Linked DNA regions of Homo sapiens: regions 1 and 2 are each linked to region 3. Evidence: fine-mapped expression QTL. A gene starts in region 3. Each other region holds a variant in brackets. All regions are shown on one strand. Distances are between the middles of the regions. Region 1 overlaps SLC38A4 (solute carrier family 38 member 4). Region 2 holds the start of LOC124902924 (a long non-coding RNA gene). Region 3 holds the start of SLC38A4 (solute carrier family 38 member 4).

The links. PIP is the estimated chance that this variant, and not a neighbour inherited with it, causes the effect. A credible set is the group of variants that fine-mapping cannot tell apart.
Region 1: its variant is the best candidate, but not a certain one, in a credible set for the expression of SLC38A4 in nasal epithelium (TOPMed, PIP 0.50).
Region 2: its variant is the best candidate, but not a certain one, in a credible set for the expression of SLC38A4 in skeletal muscle (GTEx, PIP 0.50).

The regions. Positions count from the first base shown.
Region 1 is chr12:46,790,155-46,798,345 of GRCh38, reverse strand. SLC38A4 (solute carrier family 38 member 4) reads left to right here. Exons shown (of 17, transcript NM_018018.5): 3 at 5,163-5,393. The coding sequence starts at 5,275. Among named protein-coding and RNA genes, the nearest start is that of SLC38A4, 32 kb to the left of the region's middle. The variant T/C (reference allele first, on the strand shown) is at 4,047.
Region 2 is chr12:46,940,241-46,948,431 of GRCh38, reverse strand. LOC124902924 (a long non-coding RNA gene) reads right to left here and starts at 6,942. Exons shown (of 2, transcript XR_007063285.1): 1 at 3,945-6,942; 2 at 1-754. The variant T/C (reference allele first, on the strand shown) is at 5,076.
Region 3 is chr12:46,821,112-46,829,302 of GRCh38, reverse strand. SLC38A4 (solute carrier family 38 member 4) reads left to right here and starts at 3,306. Exons shown (of 17, transcript NM_018018.5): 1 at 3,306-3,400. RefSeq lists enhancers at 2,730-3,287, 3,288-3,846.

The sequences.
Region 1 (8,191 bases), 31 kb after region 3:
TAGCTAGAACACTAAGGTGAGGAGAGTGTGGACGGAGATGAGACCAGAGAGGTGGGTGGACCAGGCAGAATCTTACCAGGCATGTTGAGAATTTTGGACTTTATCCTCAGAGTAAAGGGAAGACATTAAAGGGTTTTAAGCAAATAAATGATATGATCTGTGTTGTTGCTGTTATGTTTCAAAGATCACTCTGGGTATTGGGTAAAGAATGAATGGTGGGGGTGGTTAGGGGAGGCAAAAGAGAATTGAAGATCAATTAGGAGATTTTTACAGTAGACATGATGGTAGCTTGGACAAGAGTGAAGGTGAAAGAAATGAAGAGAAAAAGACTAACTTGAGAAATACTTCAGTTTATTGTAAAAGTCAACCAGACTTTGTAAAGAACTGGATGTGGAGGGTAAGAAAGAAAAATTTATAATAGAAGGCTCTTATGCTTTTGACTTGAATAATTGGATAAATGGTGACAACATTCTTTGGAATGGAAACATTGGAAGAAGAGGGCCTATCACAAGTTAGACTTTGAACACATTGAATTTAAACTGCCTTTGAGATATATAGATGACATTTAGGCCCCTGGACACATGGAACTTGAGTTCCCAGGAGAAGCCTAGGCTGATGTAACTTGAGGAGTCTTTGGTATATGTATTCATCAGAGTTCTCCAGAGAAACAGAACCAACTGGAGATAAATAGACAGACAGGTATAGATGTATATAGATATAAGATGACATTTATAATGGGAATTGGCTTTCATGATTATGGAGCCAAGAGATCTCAAAGTACAGCATCTGCAAGCTGGAGAACCAGGAAAGCTGGTGGTATAATTTAATCTGAGGCCAAAGGCTGAGAAACAGGATGTTGCTGGTATAAGTATCAGAATTACGAGGTCTGGGAAGCAGGAGCTCCAATGTTCAAGGGCAGGAGAAGGCAGCAGAAGATGGATGTCCTAGCTCAAGCAGAGACAGTAAATTTGCCCTTCCTCTGCCTTTTTGTTCTATGTGGAACCTGGAGTGTTTGGAGGATGCTCACCTTCAGTGGTGAGAGTGGACCTTTTTTACTCAGTCTATTGATTCAAATGGTAATCTTTTCCAGAAACACCCTCACAGACACACCCCAAAATAAAGTTTTACTTGCTATCTTCCCATCCTTTAATGCAGCCACAATGACATATAAAATTAACCATCACGTTATATGAAGTCTTGGGAGTGGACTGGAAGAATGGGGCTTAGGATCTAGCTTTAAGGAAGTCAAGCAATGAAATGTCACATATTTTTAAAAGGACAAACCACAAAAACTGTGAAAAGCAATAGTGGTGTCATCAGCAAATAGAAATTTTTGAGAATTCCTAGAAGGCAGAAAGAAGATAGGGTTGGAAAATCTAAGAGAAAAGGAACCAAGATAAGTGTGCTTTTCCCATAGGGAGCCCTGCAGTAGCTTCAAGTTAAGTCGATAAAGACAAAGAGGAGGCATAGATCATGGGCAACCAGTGATCAGGTATCCACCAAGGAACCTCAGTTTAGACATCATGGTCTGTTTGGGATACCATTTTTGACTATAAGATAAAGCTGTGATCCAATCTGTAAAGAAACCTCAAGGGAGGATGCTAGGATAAGCATTAGGGCCTCTACTGCAGACAAAGAGGTATAACAAACAGGAATGGAAGCTCTACCAAAAAGAAGATACATTAAAATGCTTCACCCCCGGAGTAACTGCTCCTAGAGTGGCAGCTGTGTCTGGGAGTGGGATGCTCCTCCCACAGACAAGCAGCAGAAGAGCCACTTACACAGAACCTACAAGGGAGCAGCCCATCAGTGAAATGGGCCCACACAATTTCAGAGAAGCTCTGAGTACCAGCTGTCCAAGCTAATCGATGCGCTCTGTCATTCACAAATATGAACAGATAACCTAGGAACACTTGAAACTAAGGAAAATGAGCAGCATGGAAGAGAAGGACCAAAGGGAACAAACAGAATAACTAACTTCAGAAGAAACGTATAATTTAGGGAACAAAAGGAACTTCTGAAAACCTCACATCAATATCCTTAGAAAAATCTGAGAAAATATAGTATCCATAAAACAAAAAAAGTGATATGAAAAAAGAGAAAGAGGATAAGAGCAAATTATTAGAAATTAAGAGCATGATTGAGAAAAATAGCTGACAAGTTGAAAAATGAAACGGATATAGCTGAAGGTGAAATTTGTTATTTTGGATGTGACATTGAGGAAATATTCCTGAACATCGAGCAGTAAGATGAACAGATCGAACATAAACAGAAAAGCTTAGCAATATGGATCAAGAGGTCCAATACCTGATTAATAAAAGTTTCAGGAGTAAACAAAGGGGAAGAAATAGTTTTTTTAAATAGTAGAACTTTTTTTATTTTTAGAAAATGTGTCTTCTATAGAAGAAAGACAAGCCTTTTGATTGGGCCGTCTGCATGCTGAGTATGATGAATTTTAAAAGCGACTCACATCTAGTCACGTCGTGATGAAAGGATAAGGATAAAAATTCTGAAATCCTCAGAAAACCATCGATAAATTATCTATAAAGAAATAAGAGCCAGACTCATCAATAGAAGCTAGAAGAGAGAAGTTTCTTCAATATTCTGAAGGAAAATGCTTCTGAATCTAGAATTCAAACAATTAACAAAGTTTGAAGGCAAAATAAAGAATTTTCCAACATGAAGCAACTCAGAAATTCTATTTACAGACATAGGCTCATTGTGTGAAAAAAGTTATTCAAGGCATTATTTTAGCATAATGCAAAATAAACTGAAGAAAGAAGATAGAATGCCGTTCAAGAAACTAGCAGCTGAGCAAGACTCAGAGGTTGGAGGAGGAAGCCATTCAGAATGAGAAAGAGCATAGAAAATTTGCTTTCAAAGTTTTGGTAATATAGAATTATATTTCACTTATTATGTAGTCAAATACACCACTTTGTCTTTAGGGCATACTATTTATACAGTGATAATACTGTAATTGCTGCTTATTGGTTTTCCATGTTTAGAAACAACCTACAGGCAAGTTATGACACTTGTTTCACAGAACAAGATGAAAATATTATGATTCTCAAATTGTAAAAGTATTTTATTAACTAAAATAATTAGGAGTGTAGGAGAAGGAAGGAAAGAAAGAAAAAGTATGCTAATGTCCTTATTTTTTATGGGTAACCAGTCTAAAATCAGTAAACCAAGTCAAAAAAGCTTTAGTGAATTATTCAGATCTAGAATGGCTAACTTTAAGTAACAAGCTAAAAACAGAAACCGTCAATAGTGGTTGCTGCTGGGAAGTGAGACTGGTACTGTGTGAAGAATGAGGAAAACCTTTGTACTCATTTAGTGAGTTTCTTTTTTTTTTCTTTTACCCATATGCATGTCTTACTTCTATTCTCTCTTAGCTTTTAACCTGCTTCTTTTCATCTTTTATGTATATACATTTAGGCTGCCTTATATTAATAATAGTTTCATTTTTGTTCCTCCTGCTTAAAACACTGTGTGCTATTTTTTTAAATTCTGAGAACTGCTTTCTTTATTTCTAGACAATTCTCTGCCATTATCTCTTTCTGTTTTGTCTCACCCTAGTCTCACAATTCTCTATATTGGAATGACTATCAGTGTATATTTGAACTTGTAATTCTTATTTTTTCCCCATTCCTCTTAACTTCTTATTTGTATTTTTCTTTTTTTAATCTCTTCATGCTATAATTTGAGTGATTTCCACAGATCTGTCTTTCAATTTTATAAGTCTTCCTTCAGCTGAGTTTTTTTAAATTTCAATGATTCTATTTTTTTCTTTTTTTTAAGAATTCCTTTTTTTGACTCTTTTTGCAACAGCCTGTTCTCCTTTTATATTCCTTTATAATGTTTTTATTCTGTGAAAGTTATTCTCTTATTTTGAATGTTTTCTTTCAAAATGTCTTTCTTTTTATTAATTTAATGTAAAAGTCCCTTTTAAATTGCTTTGTTATTTGTAGTTCCTTAGATGTGAATTTTATCATTTCTTGTGCCTACTGGCACTCTTGCTAGTGAGTTTCCATGTGTGTTCTATA[T/C]GTTTTGTAATTTGAGGATGTGAACTTTTCTCAAGTGTGAGTTGCCTTTCAAAAAAGTACTGCCATGGCACTGGGTTGTGGAGGTATTCCCATGTGGTAGTTTCTGTTTGTCAGAGGAATAGCACATTTTGTGACTTCTGGAGCAATTTTTATGTTAGTTTCTCTGCTCAAGATTTCCTTATCAAATGGGTATTGCACATGTCATGACCACACTTTTCAAGAATGATAGTGTTTCTCCTAATACGATGGTTCAACAATAATTGAATGAATCTAATGGTAAGAATTTCAGAAGAAATTATATCAACTACATATAGTAGATTCAAGGCATTTTTCAAAAACACAATGCCAGTCCACCCCTTTTCACTATACAATTGAGGAAAATGAGGTCCCCAAATGTTAAATGACTTCTGCTGAGATCCAATGAATTAAAGGCAGAGCAGAGGCTAAAATCTAGATCTCTTTGTTGTTAAAATACATTTTAATTTGACACAGATGATGAGTAATGCTGACCCAGAGGTAAATCTGAACTTTCTTTTGTTACTATTCTTAACTTTGGCTTCAGGATCCAAGTGCCTAGAAAGTTACTTCCTAAACTTGATCCTCACCTATGTTGCATATTATCAAGCATTTGGTGGTGTTAATTCTTTCATGTCCAATTAAATTAAAGCAGTAATTTTCTTTCTAGTTATTGCTAGTAGAGACACTGGTAGATTCTGCCTTGGTAGACCTTCCTCTGTCAACAATTTACTTTTGTCTTCCTTTCTTTTAAAACATGTATCCCACTCACAAATACCTAAATTTCCTTGAAGACTGCTGCCATGTCTTAAGATTTCTTTTTTTTTCCATAGTGACTAGTAAAACCTGCCATTTTCATTATACATAGGCACTCTATAAATATCTGCTAATTTAGCAATTATTAGTAATTTCCTTTCTTCTCTTCCATTTCTTCCTTTCTTGTATTGGGTAAAGGAACATTTCAGGATTTTCTTATGTAAAGTTTTCAGGAGTTTCTTTCCTTCCTCCCTTTTACAGAGAGCATACAAAATGTAGATGATTCATATTCACTTATTTCATTTAAATAAAATTATAATGATGTATGTTGTGTTCTGTTTGCAGAACAGAGTGTTCTGAACATCAACACAAAGTGGAAGAACCTTAAGCTGAAGGTACAGTATATTATTTACACTGAAGGGGCTTGTGTGTGGACAAGAAAGCGCTGACAGCTCAAATGGATCCCATGGAACTGAGAAATGTCAACATCGAACCAGATGATGAGAGCAGCAGTGGAGAAAGTGCTCCAGATAGCTACATCGGGATAGGAAATTCAGAAAAGGCAGCAATGAGCAGGTATGGGGTTAAAAATTACTATGTTCCATGGAAAAATAAGACAGGATGTGGACATGGAAAACAGGGTCTTGATGGGAAGAACTGGATTTATTACAGGTAAATTTGTGATAACAATGATATTGATGCTAGCACATCAATTCCCTGGTCCTGAAATACAGTGATAATGTCAATCTCTTTTGTGACTGATTTAGAATTGAGGTTACAATGTCTTTGTCTCCATTAATAATGTGTAATAATTTTAATTATTTTAGCCTATTGCTCCTCTTATCTTTCTCAGATTCCTCTTTGAATGTTGCTACACCTCCTGGTTTCTGTAGGGATTCTTTTCTCTCTAAAAGTATCCTCTGGGCAAGCTCACTCACAACTACTATGGCCTCACCCTCCAAATATATGCCATATACCCAGCCTGTTAAGTTTCTCTACTGAATTTCAGATAATTATATCTGAATGTCTACTGCACGTCTCTACTGGACCATTACTGTGTCTAAATTGCCTCATTTATAAAGTTAAACCTGTAATGTCTAATACTGAACTCCTATCTTTCCCTCCAAAACCTGCTCCTCCTCTAGTAATCCCCATCCTAGTGAAAATCACTGCTATCATGTAGCAACTCACTCAAAAGCCCCTAGGTGTAAACTTTGACCCACATAGCCAACGGTCAGTCATATCCAGTTGGTTTGACCTTATTAATGCTTCAAATACACCTACTTTTCTGTACCCATTCTACTGTGGTCTTACGTTAGGCCTACATTAAATGTGAGACAGGGAGAGAGCCCTGATTTCTCTCCCTGTCTTACATTTTGCTCTCCTCTGTCTAGCCCTCTACACTCCTGCAAGAGCAATCTCTTACAATTGCAAATTGAATCAATTTCCATCCTTAGATAAAGCCCTTCTGCACCTCTCCAATAGCCATAAGAGAAAGTAGATTACACACACTGCTGGGCACGTAAGGTCCTTTGTGATCTGTTCTTGACCTGCCCCTCCTGTCCTGTTTTTTGCCCTCTCCCTATTTGTTACTTGTTGCCTTCACTCATTCTGCTCCAACTGCCTGGAATCAGTCACCTGCTCCCCCTTTCTCCGTGTTGACACCTCTCATCCTTCAAGAATCAGCTCAACATCAGGTCTCCTATGCAGCCTTTTCCAAATTACTCTACTCCCCCATGTAGAAGTGACTGCCCCTCCTTCATGTACCCTCTCCCTGTGCAGATGTTAATTACGCCACTACTACAGGTTAATGGCCTCTGTGGTCCCACCACCTGCCACATTGTCTGGTGCATAGTGAGTGCACAATAGTTATTTGATAAGTCAATTGATTTCCCACAAAATGTTATATCAAATTGTACATGATTTAAGATGCTCAGAAGGGAATTTTTGACCAAATCTAGGCGTGAAATAGAGAATATTGTGCTCAAACAAAGACTTCTCATTTTATTTACAACACCCAGGAAAATCCATCAGGAGAAACTACCGTTCTTCCTTCAAGTAGCTCAGTGCAATGAACTTTAGGGATGTCGGACTAGAGAGGCCACTGAGATGTAAATTATAGCATTTTCTAAATTAGGTGACCCTTGAAGAAACACTAGGGTGCTAGAAGACAGGGCTTTGGAGTCTGCAGAGTAGTTGCCTGACTTTAGAGAAGCTGTTTGTCCTCTTTGAGCTTCAATGGAAAATGTAAAATGGCAAACCAACAGCTGCTTTTCAAGGATGAGATGGGTGACCAGAATATAGATGACATTCAATACTTTTTTATTACTTCTCCTTCACTGCATTACCCTCAGTAAATTGATTCAAACCTGAGGATGTTTCTGAAAGGCATGCACACAAATATGAGCTCTGCCGAGGTTGACAGAGTTAAAGGGGACACCCTCCTAAGAACTGTCATAGTGTCATTCCACTTGATCCTCAAAAGCCAGAGTAGAAAGAGCATGAATGCTTTTCTTAAGCTTCATGCAATGTGTTCCGAACCACTCACAGTGACTTACCTTTTATCTCCTGGCTTAAACATAGGACATCATTTTGCAGTTTTTAAAATCAGTTTAAAGAGATGGGTTTTATCTATGTGTGGTTTGGATTGAACCCTTAAATGTAAATTTTTGAGAAATTCAACATAATGTATTTATTTGTGATCATTATACTTGTGTTTTCAATACATGCTGGGTTTGGTATCAAAACATTTAACATACTGGGGACATTTCTCATCTATTTTATACAATCTTGGCATGTTAAATGACTACAACTCATCTCATGCCAAAATAAGAACATGCAAATGCCTCAAAGAAAGAAAATCTGTTTACTTTCAAATTCTCAATTTTAAAAACTACTATGGAATACAGATTTTAGTTTATTGATTAAAATAAAGATTCCAGAGTTTAAATTCTAGGTGGCACTTTTGTTTTTATAGTCCTCAGGCCCATTTTAGGCTTCATTTTATCCTGTCATCTCAGTCTCCAACTGTGAACATTATGTACCAGTCTTCACATAGCAGGTACATTAATTACAGACCATTAATGTAAACCACAAAAGAGTGGTGGGCAGTGGGTGGGGGGTGAATGGAAATGGAAAGAGGCAACAACTGAGGGCATTGTGCTTTCTGTGAGAAATATGGGGAGAAGGCTAGGAAATGTTCTTAACTTGTGTACTCAGAGCTATTTATGCCTTGAGTTCTAGAAAAGCACATACAACTTTGTGGTTTCGTGTGCTGTTTCTATCTACATCTCATACTGTTTTCTATTCTCAAAAAGTAACCCTGTCATCCTCTTTCCTCTCCAGATTATTTTCAGGATTAGCTTCTGTTATAA
Region 2 (8,191 bases), 120 kb before region 3:
TGTTGAAATCCTAACCTATAATACCTCAGAATGTGACCTTATGTGGGAATAGGGTCCTTGCAGATGTAATAAGTTAAGATGAGGTCATAGTGGAGTGGGGTAGACCCCTAATTCCATATGACTGGTGTTTCTATGAGAAGACAGCCATGTGAAGCCACAGAGATACACAAGCAGAAGGCCACGTGAAGCTGGAGGCAGAGACTGGAGTGATGCATCTACAAGCCAAGGAACACCAAGCATTGCCTATGTTCACCAGAAGCCAGGACACAGACATGAAACAGATTCTCCCCCAGAGCCCCCGAAAGGCACCCGCCCTGCTGACATCTTCCTTTCAGACTTGTAGCCTCCAAAACAGTGAGAATAAATTTCTTTTGCTTTAACTTATCTAGTTAGTGGTTGGTATGGCAGCCTTAGGAAACTAACATAATAATATTTTAAAGAAAACTTAACGTTTCTCCCTTTAGATGACAATTCCAGCCATAATCCAATAACAAAAGTGCTTGCTAGCATTTATTACTTACTGAAGACATGCCAGACACCATCCAGTTTTCCTCAGCAGAACCTACCAGATCACTGCCACAGAAACCAGGCCACCTTGCAACCCTCCTCCAGTATTCAGTGATTCTGCTCTTGCCCATAGATGGTCCACTCAGCAGTCACAGTTTTGAGTCTCTAGAATGCAGTTCTCCAAATTTCCAAAAATTCCCTCTGGGCTACATCCATGTAACTAATACATTGCTCCCTGGAGATAGGCCTAGGAGGAAGTCAAAAAGTCAACTCAACATCATCTGGAAAGCATGAACTCAGAACAAGGTGTGTTACTGGATGAACTAAATATTTTATGGCACCAGATATATCCATTGCAAAAACAAGGATAGTGTTTGGGCTGGTACATTGCTGTCACCTCCTCTGTCACAGAAGCATGAACTGAGCAGGTTCAGCTTTGCTTGGCACCTTTTTTCACAGCTCCCAGAGCCGACCAATCTCTTTCTGAGAGGTTACTGTTTTATTTTACATGTTTTATTTTTAAGCTACATTAGTGTATTAATCAATGATACAATTATAGTTTGGTCTGTGTGTTAGTCCGGGAAGTACATGTCAAGATGGGATTAAACATGCATGGATTTTATTAAAGGAGGGAGCTGAGGAAAGCTGGGATAGTCATTGGTCTATGATGCAAGCCTGACCCTGAAGGAAGGAGAAAGGGGAAGGGCAGGAGGAAGCATCTTAGACATTTACAGTTGGAGGAAGGTTCATCAAGGTATTGGGGGCAGGATGTGGGGCAAGAAGGGTCACTTGTGGCAAAGTGGGCTGTAGAAATGCCCTATCTTGCAGAAATGCATCTGCCTTAGTGTTTCTGTTGCACTCAATCATGGCTGGGAGCAGCCCATGGGAAGCTTGGCCTCAGTACAACATGGCGAATGATTTCAGAGCATGGAAGCTAGAGCCCTTGGTCAGTTATGCATCCTGTCTTTCATGACCCATACACCACAGCCTGGGAGCCATACTTTTTCTTTAAGGGGACTGATTGCCTATCTTAGTAATGTGTTGATTTAAAATTTAACTACCAGAGGCAATTTCACTTCTCATTTATTGGAAGAAATTTCCTGTGGCATGACCTCCAAGTATTTATAATATCTATCTTGTTTTATTCTATTTACTTCTTATACATATGTGTGTGCAAATATATTTATATATACACACAATATTATGCATCTCTTAATAGCAAGAATATGTTCTGGGGAATGCATCACTAGGTGATTTTGTCATTGTGCAAACATCATAGAGTATACTTGCACAAACCTAGATGGTATAGCCTACCTACTATACACCTAAACTATATGGTAAAGTCTACTGCTCCTAGGCTACAAACCTGTACAGCATGCTACTGTACTGAATACTGTAGGCAATTATGACACAATGCTGGGTATTCATGAATCTAAACATATTCATACATAGAAAAGGTACAGCAAAAGTATGGTGTAAAAGATTTAAAGTAATGGTATAAAGATTTAAACGGTATAAATATTTAAAGTACAGTAATGCCCTAGGCCTTCATGTTCACTCACTACTCAATCACTGACTCACCCAGAGCATCTTCCAGTCCTGCAAGCTCCACTGTGAATGAGTGGTGAGTGAACAGGAAGGCCTAGGACATTACTGTACACTACTGCAGACTTTCTAAAGACTGAACACTTAGCCTACACTGAATTCATAAAAAAATTTTTTCTTGCTTCAATAATAAATTAACGTTAGCTTACTGTAACATTTTTACTTTATAAACCTTTGCATTTTTTAACTTTATGAATCTTTTGTAATAACACTTAGCTTAAAGCACAAACACATTGTAGAGCTGACAAAAATATTTTCTTTCTTTATAGCCTTGTTCCATAAGCTTCTTTGTATATATGTGTATGTACATATATATACACACATATGTACATGCACATATATATAAAATATATATATATATATATATATAAATCCCATGTCTAAGGTCAACCAGCTGGCTCTCACCTTCTCATGTCTAAGGTCGACCAGATGTCTCTCGCCTTCCCATGTCCAGTATTTATTTATTATATTGTATTATTTATTTATTTATTTTTGAGACAGAGTTTGTCTCTCTTGCCCAGGCTGGAATGTTGTGGTGTGATCTCAGCTCACTGCAGTCTCGATCACCAGGGCTCAGCAATCCTCCTGCCTCATCCTCCTTAGTAGCTGGGCTACTGATGTGCACCAATTTTTGTATTTTTTGTAGAGATAAGCCTTCACCATATTGCCTGTGCTGGTCTCAAACTCTTGGACTCAAGTGGTCCACCTGCTTTGGCCTCCCAAAGTGCTGGGATTACAGGCATGAGCCACAGCACCCAGCTGCTGCTTTATATTTTTAAAATGTCTTTTTTTTATTCTTCTTAAAATTTTTTTAAACCTTTTTTTTCTTTTTTTTTTGGCTAAGAACTAAGATGCAAACATACACATCAGTCTAGGCATATACAAAGTCAGGATCATCAATATCATTGTCTTCTACCTCCACATCTTGCCTCACTGGAAGGTCTTTGGGGCAATAATACACATGAAGCTATCATCTTCTACAATGCCTTCGGGAACACCTCCTGAAGGACCTGCCTGAGGCTGTTTTACAGTTAACTTTTTTTCATGAGTAGAGGGAGTAAACTCTAAAATAATGTTAAAAAGTATAGTTCAACATATAGCTTAACATGGTTATTGTGAGAACAACTAATCAGATAAATCATTCCAAGCCCCAGAGGTTATTTGAAGGGGTGGGGACTGAAGAGGAGCTGTATAGTAAATACATAAACCACTAGTATAGTTGTGTTGTTTATCATCATTATTGAGTATCATATACTGTACATAATTGTATGTGCTATACTTTTATACGACTGGAAGCGCAGTAGGTTTGTTTACACCAGCATGACCACAAATAAGTGAGTAATGCATCATGCTACATTACGATGGCTACGATGTCACTAGACAACAGGCATTTTTCAGCTCCATTAAAATGGAACGAATGTCACACATGTGGTTTGTTGTTGACTGAAATGTTATACAGCACATTACTCTGTGTGTGTGTATCTATATTTAAATGTTATGTGCTGCATAACATTTCAGTATACATATAGTGTGTATATATATTTACTGTATATATACACACATACATGCATACATATACATATATGTTTTAAAGATATATTACTGCACTTAAAAAAGAGAGGAAAAGCTATTGGAAGCTAAATACTTCCTGAGATATATAACTTTCCCCAAACCCATAGTGAAATGGTTCTTAAATAGAAAAGCCCTGTGTTAGTGCACCATATGATATCAGTTAGACATCACACAAATGCACATTCCTAATAGCATCTCAAGGTGAATAAATGATATACTTTATACATTGCTGCATATATCACATTTAATGAAACACCTACCTGAGTCTTAAAGACACTTTATCTTTAATTAGAACACATGCTGTACTCAGAAATAGTAATTTTGACAACTCTCAGTACTGAGAATGGGTGAAACAAACAACAGTGAACATCATTTTCACACCACTGTTCAGACAGCAATTTGAAGAAAATGCTGAGCACAGCTCCCCCTGCCTTGTCAGTGAATGTTGCCTGGAGATTTGTGAGAACACGTGCACACGTTGACTCAGCAAGACCAAACTGACTGTACATCCATGATCCTCTGGGAGTGAATTGTTCTTAAAATAATGTGAAATATGAAGCATCCAAGAGGTGAAGGAAGCAGTGAAAAATACCATCTGCAAAATAAGAATCTTGGATTGTTGTCTTGTTTATACTTGAGCCTTCAATAAATTACTTAATTAGCTTCTTCTTGACCCATTTCTCTTTTATTTAGGCTGCTTAAAAAAAAAGTCCCTGGTAGTTTACATAGCACAGTTTAATACACATAAAAACACTTTAGCCTAATGGTTCCTTTAATGAAATTTATGTGAAAATGTCACTTCAATCATGAGACTTTTATATTTGTCCAGTTTTATTAATCTTTATAACTTGTGGGATATTTTTCAAAGATCTGAACTAAAAAAAAAAATTTGACTGGAAAAATGAGGAAAAACATTTTGAGTCTTTCTTTATCAAAGAATCATTTATTTTTTGTACTCCAGGAAACACTTATGCATCAAATTTACTAAAGGTTCATTAACAGTGCAGTAAGTCTAGAATAATCATAATCTAAAAAATAACAATCTTCAAGTGATCAGATTTTTGTCTTTCATAGTCAATAGTCTAATGTTATGGAAAAAATTACAAGTGAAAAATCATAACAACTTATAAGGTGCGTTTAATGTCAACATCCTTTGATATCTTTAGTTCTTTACAGTGTGCATCATGTTAATCAGTCACAACATCCTATGTTATTGTCAAAATGCTCTATTTGCTAAGACAAAAAATGAAATGAATTATTTTATAATTTTAATGACAGGAGACACAAAAAGGATTTTGGAATTTAGAAAGTTAACCCTTAGCAAGCCAGAAAGTAGGGTAACCAAATTCTCTCATTTAATTCTCTTAGACTTTGCTATACTTCTCAACACA[T/C]ATGGAAAATATACAGCTCCCTAAGGACGGTTGCAGCCTAACATCCCAAACCAAAGAGCATTGATTGTGTCAGTTGCTAGGAGGCCACAGTAGCATCAGTAACCTGCTTTCCTCTTATGCCCACACGGTTATCCTGAGAACAGTTAATCAGATAAATTATTCCAAGCTCCAGAGGTTATTTGAAGGCATGGGGACTGAAGAAGAGCTAAAAAGGGAAAAGGAGATGACTGCAACACTTCCCCAGCTCCTGAAGCAAAGAGACCTGGAAAGAAGGGAAAGCTAAATTTTTCTGGCACCTCTCACTCCATTACAAACACACACACACACACACACACACACACACACACACACACACACTCTCACACGATGCTGCACCTTTCTCGCTTCTTTTCTCACTGTTCCCCTTGACTTTCATTTAAACTTGACTTTGCACATGTAGAGTGCTTATGAGCTACAGAGGAAGGACACAGGCAGACCAAATAGCCTTGAGTCACACATTCCTCCAGGAAATTATCTTTGGGCCCTATGATTTACTGAGCAGGTGCTCAGTAACTGTATGTCAAATAATTGAAGGCATGCATGCCACCTACTGACATTAGGCTTAATTCTTACCATTCATTGGATGACTTATCCTCTTTCAGTTCTGAATCATTTCCTTCTGCATATTTGAGAGCTCCTATGCTGCTAGGAATTGCGGCTTTGGGAATTAAACATGATCATCCTGAACCCTAAAAATTCTGGAAAATATCTATAGAAGCTTGGGTTTTTCCATCCTGTCTTGGGCTCGTTCTAATTTTGTAAATGACTTTCACGTATTCTCTTGATAGTTCACCTGCAGCTTAAATTTTATGGGCACCTTCAAATGAAATTTTTATATAAATGATGCAATATGTGCATCAAAATCCATCAGAAATTGAAATTCCATGGTGAGAAAATAAATCACTAGAGAGTTTGTTTGTTTATATATAAAGAATGTGCCTATTTAATTTAATGCTCTATATGTAAACGATCAGCTTTAAAATGTAATAATCTATAAAGGATTCCAGATTTTTACATGTTTACATATTTAACATTCAAGAAGCTTGACTTGAATCCAGATCTTCAAGGTTCTGTTCCCACATGCCAGGAATGAAGCAGGTTAGGACACACTTGTTAATGTCTGCAGTTGAAGGCCATAATGACCCTTCTCCATTCTGCTGGATGCATACTTCCATCATGACCTAGGGTTTGCCTGCTAATTTCTACACAGGCTCAGAGCCTATGACAGAACCTCCTTAACCACCATGCTCTGTGGAGGTACCTATACAAAAATCCTGGGTCATCTTCCTTGGGAATGACATTATTGCAGGTTCAAGTCTTGTTATGGGTTGAAGTACTGTGTAGCATAATGTTATAGTGCTTAATACAAATTATACAAAGCAATTAAACATTGGCGAGTAAAGCTGTGTCAACAGGGAAATATTTAGTAAAAGATGAATCCACCTAGATAGATTTGTTTCATAAGCGTAAACCTGTTTGTGGCAAGGTTATGCTGGTGCCTTATAAACTCCAGCCCTTTGAATAACCTTAATGTGCACTTTTTCGTAGCCCACAGAGTTTCTATGACCATAACTTGCATACTTCTCAGAGCAGAAGGACTGAAACAATATCTATCAGTGGTTCTCACAAGAGCAGCAATAATTTTTTTCCAAAAGGTCTTCCAAAAGTCTTTAAAGATTTGTAATTACTGTTCATTTATTGTAAAATAAACATAAATTAAAAATTACAAGAAAATTAAAACTCAATTTCACCACCCAATAATTAACCACAGTTGACATTTGTCTAATAGGTTTCTGGATGTTTTTCTAGGCATATATGTATATACTTTCCAAAGACGGGAGCATATTGTACATACTCCATACGGGTGTTTTTTTTTTTTTTTTTAAATTGTTTTGTGATTTGGGGTTTTTTTTTTTTTTAATTTTTTTTTATTATACTTTAAGTTTTAGGGTACATGTGCACATTGTGCAGGTTAGTTACATATGTATACATGTGTCATGCTGGTGCGCTGCTCCCACTAACTCGTCATCTAGCATTAGGTATATCTCCCAATGCTATCCCTCCCCCCTCCCCCCACCCCACCACAGTCCCCAGAGTGTGATATTCCCCTTCCTGTGTCCATGTGATCTCATTGTTCAATTCCCACCTATGAGTGAGAATATGCGGTGTTTGGTTTTTTGTTCTTGCGATAGTTTACTGAGAATGATGGTTTCCAGTTTCATCCATGTCCCTACAAAGGACATGAACTCATCATTTTTTATGGCTGCATAGTATTCCATGGTGTATATGTGCCACATTTTCTTAATCCAGTCTATCATTGTTGGACATTTGGGTTGGTTCCAAGTCTTTGCTATTGTGAATAATGCCACAATAAACATACGTATGCATGTGTCTTTATAGCAGCATGATTTATAGTCATTTGGGTATATACTCAGTAATGGGATGGCTGGGTCAAATGGTATTTCTAGTTCTAGATCCCTGAGGAATCGCCACACTGACTTCCACAATGGTTGAACTAGTTTACAGTCCCACCAACAGTGTAAAAGTGTTCCTATTTCTCCACATCCTCTCCAGCACCTGTTGTTTCCTGACTTTTTAATGATTGCCATTCTAACTGGTGTGAGATGATATCTCATAGTGGTTTTGATTTGCATTTCTCTGATGGCCAGTGATGATGAGCATTTTTTCATGTGTTTTTTGGCTGCATAAATGTCTTCTTTTGAGAAGTGTCTGTTCATGTCCTTCGCCCACTTTTTGATGGGATTGTTTGTTTTTTTCTTGTAAATTTGTTTGAGTTCATTGTAGATTCTGGATATTAGCCCTTTGTCAGATGAGTAGGTTGCAAAAATTTTCTCCCATGTTGTAGGTTGCCTGTTTACTCTGATGGCAGTTTCTTTTGCTGTGCAGAAGCTCTTTAGTTGAATTAGATCCCATTTGTCAATTTTGGCTTTTGTTGCCATTGCTTTTGGTGTTTTGGACATGAAGTCCTTGCCCATGCCTGTTTGCAGACGACATGATTGTTTATCTAGAAAACCCCATCGTCTCAGCCCAAAATCTCCTTAAGCTGATAAGCAACT
Region 3 (8,191 bases):
GCCACTACTGCCCTGATGATGTTCTGCAGGAAGGATAAGAGGTAGAAGTAGGGGAGGGACAAGTGAAAGGAAAGGTGCTTTAAGAGCCAGTCTTTATACTAAGCCCTTTAATGTGAATCTCATTTAATCTTCACATGATACTCTATTCTATAGGTATTTGTTATCTCTGTTTTACAGACAGGAAATTGAAGAGGTTAAGGAAAGAGCCAAGAGTCACAAAGCTAGTAAGTAACAATGCTGATATTAGAATAAAATTCATCCTATGCAAAAGCTCCTGCTTGTTGCAATAAAGACAGCAGTAAAATAAAGACAACCAGAGGGAGGAGAACAAAAACTTAAGGAAACAAGGGTGTTAGAAATGTGTTACATAACACAGTATGGTGTGAGAGATAGGAGAAATGGAAAAACAGAATCACTTTCATGTCTCTTAGTTCTTTCTTCCACTGTGTATATAATGACCTAATTTCACTCATTCATTCCATAAATAATTATCAAGTGTTACTATCTTCAAAGAACTATATTAGGGAGTTTCTTTTATTCCTATCTTCCTAGCACCTAGCACAGTGCTGGGCAAATACCAGGTGCTCAAGAAATATTTGTGGAACAATGAATGAGTCTACTGGAGGAAAGAATAGATAAGGAAACATTTGCAATACAGCATGATTAAAAACCAGGGAAAAGGCTGGGCACCGTGGCTCATGCCTGTAATCCCAGCTCTTTGGGAGGCTGAGGAGAGTGGATCACCTGAGGTCAGGAGTTCCAGACCAGCCTGACCAATATGGTGAAACACCATCTCTACTAAAAATTACAAAAATTAGCTGGATGTGGTGACGTGCGCCTGTAGTCCCAGATACTCGAGAGGCTAAGGCAGGAGAATTGCTTGAACCCAGGAGGCAGAGGTTGCAGTGAGCCAAGATCATGCCACTGCACTCCAGCCTGGGCGACGGAGCGAGACTCCATCTCAAACAAACAACCAACCAACAAAACAAACAAAAATAAAAATAAAAAAAAGGAAAAATCAGATTTGAATACTCTACCAGAGAACCTGGCTTAGGAAAGGGGTCAGAGAACATTTCAAGACCAGGTGGTACCTGAGCAAGGTTTTGAAGTAGAAATAAAAGTTAGCCAGGCAAAGAATTGGAGGATGTGAGGAAAGGACTCTCAGTGGAGAGACCAGACTGAGAAAGGATAAGGAGGGAGTCAGTTCAGGAATTTAAGAGTTCAGTACTCTTAGTCAGTAGAGAATGCTTGGGAGGAGGCTGGGGAGGGAGGTGTGGTCAGGGAGATCCTTGCACATTCTCTCTGCAAGTGTCCCTTAGCTCTGCCCCTCCCCTGAATTTTGAAAGTTACCTGTGCTAACAGAACAAAGTAACTGAACATAGGAATTAGCAATACATTTTATTATTTTATTATGGCCCCATAATAGAAAGCATACAGCTTTTTTGATTGCTTTTAATGTTAGGATTTAAAACCAGTGCTCAAATGGAAAGATAAGACAACAAAGTCTTATCTTTCCATTTGAGGGAAAACCAAATTATTTTTCTGGTTCTCAAGGGCATATTCTATTTTAGCATAGATAAAATTTACACAAACATACAACAAAATCCAAACAAATGTTCTTCTATGCTTTTATGAGGGGAGAGGTGGAGGGGATTTCTCTTCTGATTTTAGTTTTTAATGGCTATATTTTTCATTTTAGTATATTATAGCAGAGTCAGGAAGTACAAATGTATTTTTAAAAGGTGATGTAGGGAATTGAATGACAGTAACAAATGCTATCCTTTTATCTTTTTAGTAGATGTTTATGCCAGTCAAGATCCTGGGTTTTCATAACAGACTTTGACAACTTTTGTTTTGTAAGGATCTATTATTCCAGGTTTTTATTCCAAGCTCAGAGGTCTGCATACCTCTTTACCATATCCATGCTTGTAAAATACTCTTGGTCATAATGTTATTAGGAAGGGAATTCAATTACTTCTACCACCCAAAGCATTATTTGAAATGTTAGCAAATGTCCATACGAAATGTTTTTCGATAGCGTGATTTCCTCTATCATAACTAAAACAAAGGAAAAAGGAGAGGAGATGGAAAAAAGAACTAAATAATACTCATGCCAGACAGTCCAGCCCAGAGAATGTCATTCCCTGTATATGATTATTTCTTGTTGGCTATTTCTGCCTATTGTTCCCAATAAATCTAATGTGTATTCATGATTAAAATGACTATTATCTCAGTTCCCTTGTTTCCCCTCAATTTTGTCTCTTTTGTTCACTACTGTCACCCTGATGCCTAACACAGTGCCTGGTATAAACAGACACTGGTACATGTTTGTTGAATGAATGAAGGAAGAAAGAAAACATGTTTCTTTCTGTTTTTTGACAGAAAATATTCTTCAAATAAACATTTTTTTCATGGACCTACTAAAGGCCTTTGCAAAATGATTTTGTGCATTGTTTATAGTCAATACAAATACTTTTAAATTGTTTACTTAATTTGCATGATTGCACATGATTAAGAGTATAAGCTTGGTAGGCAAGGTAATGTGGATATGAATCCTAATGCCATCATAAAGTTGGGCTTCCTGGGCTCAGATCTTGACTCTACCATCCAACTTCCTGGGTTCCAATTTTGGCTCTCCCACTTTTTGCCTGAGTTACCTTGAGCAAGTCAGTCCACTTTATTGCTTCACTCATCTCTGAAATGGGGAAAATAATAGTTCCAACCTCACAGGGATTTTAGGAGGATCAAATTAGTGAATATTTGTAAAACATTTAGAATCATATCTGGCACTTTTTAAAACAACAGCTATGGTATAGAATTATTGTGATGATGATACTGCATGGCACGTAAACACTCAATAAAATAGGATTGCTACTATAGATATTATCGCAATTCTTCATTTCTATAATCTGCTATGAAGATTTGGGGCCCTAACAGCCTTTCCATGTTTTGGTCCAGTGAAAGTCTTATTGTTTCTACCTTCCCTTTCACTCGTAACTCTTTCTACCCACCCTGTGTTTGTCCTGTCATTTTGCCTTGCGTCATTTATTCATTTTACACTGCATACTCCTAAGGGCAGGGACTTTGCTCTTTGTTTTGGCATAATTTAATAACACTGGGTACACTCGCGGTACTATAAAGATGTTGAAGAAAAAGAAAAAAGACGCAATTTACCAACAGGCAACTTTGGCTTACGGCGGGATAGGTCGCTGTTCTGTCTGCAATGTTGGTACTCCTGCAGGCCGCCCAGCAGCATCTAGGGGCGTGGCTGGGGGCTCTCCAGTGACCGCACGTCCTGGGCGGCCACTGGGGTGTGCGCAGCGCCTGGAGCATGAGCCGGGTGGTGGCGTGCACGGAGGATCGCGGGAGGCTGCCGCCTCGGGACACCCCACTCACACAGGTTTGCTTGCTGCTTTTGCGTGGCAACTTGGTTAGAGGGTCCAGGAGAGTGGGTGAGACGAACGTGGAAGGGGAAAGAGAAAAAGACATACTGCAAAGCACTGAAAAACGAGGTGGGTGGGAGGGATTCATTAAGAAGAGAGGCTGTGGCAGTCCTTGCTTTTAAGAAGCGTTTCGTGCATGCTAGATAGTGCTATTCAGGCTATAGTCTTGTTTCTGGAATTTTTCCAAATGGGAGGAATGTGTTTCAAGGATGCAGAGTATTCTTTAAAACCGTATGACCAAACTGACCTCTATTGTTAAAGGGATCTAACTAAAAGGGTTCGTGTTTCCCACTTTGCTTTGTGAATGCCTGAAAAGCAATCCAAAGGTTGAGAACACTGGAAAACAGAGCTATTTTATTGCAGTCCTGAGAATGCAGTCATTACTGTTTTATTCCTTCTTATCTTTTGAAGCAATACTTTAGTAATTCTTTAGTAACAGTATGCTTTAAAGAAGGTATCTGACACATTTTTGGCATGTGCCACTATGCTATATTTCATTATTCTTTCTGTACAGAGGCATCTGTAAGGAATATATATATATATATAAACTTTGTATATTAAAGTAATTATAAATTTGCATCCAGTTGCACAGAGAGGCCACCTAAACCTTTCACCTGGTTTCCTCCAGGGGTTACATCTGACACACTTTAGTACAATATTAAACCCAGGAAGCTGACATTTAAACTTCGTATATTAAAGTAATTATAGGTTCGCATCCAGTTGCACAGAGAGGCCACCTAAACCTTTCACCTGGTTTCCTCCAGTGGTTACACCTGACACACTTTAGTACAATATTAAACCCAGGAAGCTGACATTTAAACTTTGTATATTAAAGTAATTATATATTTGCATCCAGTTGCACAGAGAGGCCACCTAAACCTTTCACCTGGTTTCCTCCAGTGGTTACATCTGACACACTTTAGTATAATATTAAACCCAGGAAGCTGACATTGGAATAATGTGTGTATAGTTTCTATGCCATTTTGCCACATGTGTAGATTTGTGCAATCTGACCCACTATAGGCCTGTCAAGATGCAGAACTTCCACCTGTATCTTGCATAAGATCTCCCTTGTTCCACCTCTTTATCATTATCTCCACCTGCTCCTCGCTACCCCGGCAACCACTTGTTTTCCATCTCTATATTTTCATCGTTCTGAAACTATTATATAAATGGAATCATACTGCATGTGATCTTTTTGAGACTGAGTTTTTTTCTTTTTACACTCAACTTGATGCTCTTGAGATCCATGCAAGTTATTGAGTAGATGGATAGTTTGGTCGTTTTTCATGCTAAGTAGCATTCCAGTTGTTTGACTCTATCTAGTGCTGCACATTTTCCTTTGCTTTTTAAATCAGTGAAACTTGGAACTTCAGTGGGATTAAGGAGGTACTTGAGGGCACTTGAAGAGGTGAAAAGTGTGAGGACGAAATGTGAATATTTTTATTTTCAAAATGACATTTGTTTGTGTTAGGGCAAAAGGATGTATACACTCCATCTTCATTTAAAACACTGGAGGATTGGAAAGGAGAAAAGGAACAGGACAGAAAAAAAGTATGTACTTAGACAATAAGGTATAAAATCTAGTACCTTTTAAAATTTTTACATTGGTACAGTAATCTGTTACTTTACCTTAGTTAAGACATTTCAGAGTTCTTGAAATGAATCAAAACAATGCCTCTGCAATCGGAAGTTCCCTGCCTATCTATGCTCAGACACATACTGCCAACTGAGGGACAGTGGCATGGCTGGAAATGACAGTGAGTAGCTATTGGGTTTGACAGGGGTCACCCAGAGCCCAAAACAGCATCTTTAGCCCAAGGGCAACTATCAAGGGCAGATGTTCAGGTTCAGAGACTGTCAGTGTTACACTACTTTCACCTCCACCTCATCTGCTGCTGGGAGGAGGTCTCCCAGAGGTCCCTTCAAATCAGGTTTTAAAATGAAATGTTATTCTTTATCTGCATGCTCACAAGCATGAGAAACCTTGAAACTGGAGGCTGTAACTAGCCAAGGGAAATGCATCACTTCTGAATAGTACCTGGAAGGCTTAGGCTAAATCCCTCCCTTCAGCCCGTACCCATTGAAGAATTCCTCCCACCTCCAAAGAGAGAAGAGAACAAAATATCCACTACTATCTGAAAGCATTTGTAAATATCCCGTTGAGGTTTCGGAATTTCACATTCTGGAATTTCAGAGACATATTGTCAATTCACAGAACGAAACAGTCAGTCTGGAGCCCTGACTAGACTTGAGTTTAACTGAATGCATTGCCCTGAGTCTCTGTTTTAATGATTTCTGTTACCAGAAAAATATTCCTTGTCCTAAATCTTGGGAAAGGATGGAGTGTAGCTGGCAATGGTGGTTCCAAAGTCTCAACATGAAGAAACATCACAGCTAAAATAATTTATAACTCTTTTTATAGGTAGATCTGCTTTTCTGAGTCTTTTGAAATGGAATAGAATCATTTGTGCTGTCTTTATAATGTATTTTATTTTAAGTAAACATTAGATATCTCACATTGCTTTGCAGGCTGTTCTTCTGGGTCATATCTCCTGTGTGTGTGGGCAGGGCAGATAATTTAATCCTATAAACTTGAGGGAATGAACACTTCTCTGTAAGTCACGAGACCAAACAAAAGACCCACTGAATTTTGCATACCGCTCTTATACTGTTTACTTATTTGACTAATGATGACAGTCATTAGGAAGGTGTGATAAGAAATGTAAATATATTGACTATGATGCTCAACATTGCAGGCATTGTTTTTTACAGGGTGATGGGAGGGTTGTTTTCTGATTTTTTAAAGCTTTTTCTTTGAAGGGAAGTAATGCAGTTTTTGAAAGAAAAGTAAAATAGAAATGCCTTATGTGCATTGTATAATTACTTTTAAACTATATGTTAAACTGTGTATGTTGCATAATTACTTTAAAACTATTTCATAATATTATCATGGTACCCACATTGAAGAATTAAACCAAATATAATGCTTTCCATTATTCTTTATACCAAAATTCCTTAAAGTTTAAACTTCTTAATCTGGTAGTCAAGATCAACCTCAGCCAAACTCTATACAAACATTCTATTTTAGCTGAAGTAGACTCTTGTTTGTTGTTTCCAAGGTCAAACTTCTGATCCCATGTCCCCTGCCTGGAATCCACTCTTCTGTCTCTGAAGTCACACCATTCTTCCTATACAAAACCTACTCTATTTGCCTCAGCTCTCCAGTTCATTTCCACGTGTCTTGGAGACAGGGATCCTATCTTTTGAATCATGTTCAACATAAAGTAGGTGCCCAGTGGTGATGGACTGTCTTAGGAGCTGGGCTCAGAAGTTAGACAGTGGGTTGTGAGTTTTGGCTCAGCTATCATGCCAGGACCTTATTAGCTTTGGTCTTTGAGTAAGTTGTCTCTCAACCCTAATTGCTGTCATAAGAAGGGGTAGGGTCCCTTTATGCCTATCAACTAGGAAGACAGAATCTCCAGTTACCCACCCACTGAGACAGAAACAAATAGAAGGAGTCTTCCCATCTTAGGTCTCATAAAAATATGTATGTTTGGCACAGATTTTATTTTTGGTAAGAGATTCTAGCTTTATTCTATTCCTGTGACTGTATCTTAAATAATTACCCTTTGTTAAGTGATTGGAACCCTATGTGTACGTGTGTGTCAAAATAACACCCTCCCAAAGATGTCAAAAAAGCGAATTAAGGGGTGTGGTGCATACATGCACATTTCATATGCATACATTTCATGATCTTACATGTAGAAGAATCCTAAAGACCCCACAATAAACTCTTGAATCTAGTAAGCAAATTCAGTAAAGTTGCAGGATACAAAATCAACATACAAAATCAGTTAGATTTCTATATGTTGACAATGAACTATTCTGTCAGGAAATTAACAAAACAATCACGTTTATAGTAACATTCCTAAGGAATGAACGTAATTAAAGAGGTAAAAGTCCTATGTACTGAAAACTATAAAAGGTAAATGAAAGAAATTAAAGCAGAAAATAAATGGGAACACATCTTGGGTTAATGGAATGGAAGACTTAACATCGTTAAAATGCCCATACTATCCACAGTGAGCTACAAATTCGATGCTGTCCTCATCAAAATCCCAATGGCATTTTTTACAGAAATAGGAAAAATAATCATAAAATTTATATGGAACCATGAAAGACTCAAAATAGCCAAAGTGATTTTATTAAAGAACAAAGCTGGAGCCATCATACTTCCTGATTTCAAAATATATTACAAAGCTATAGTAACTGAAAAAATATGGTACCAAAAAACAAACAAGACAACAAAAGCTGTATGGTATTGGCATAAAGAGAGTGATAGATCAATAGAATGGCATAGAGAGCCCAGAAGTAAGCCCACACATATATGGCCAACTGATCTTCAACAAGGGTCCCAAGAACACACAATAGGGAAAACATAGCCTCTTCAACAAATGGTGTTGGGAAAACTGTATATCCACATGCAAAAGAATGAAATTGGACCTTTATCTTACATCATAAACAACAAAAAACTAAAAATGGATTAAAAACTTGAATGTAAGACTTGAAACTGTAAAACTCCTAGGATAAAACATAGGGAAAAACTTTTTAACATTGGTCTTAGCAGTGATTTATTGGATATGACACCAAAAGCACAGGCAAAAAAGCAAAAATAGACACGCAGTACTACATCAAACTAAAAGGCTTCTGCACAGCGAAGGAAATAATCAATAGAATGAAAAGGC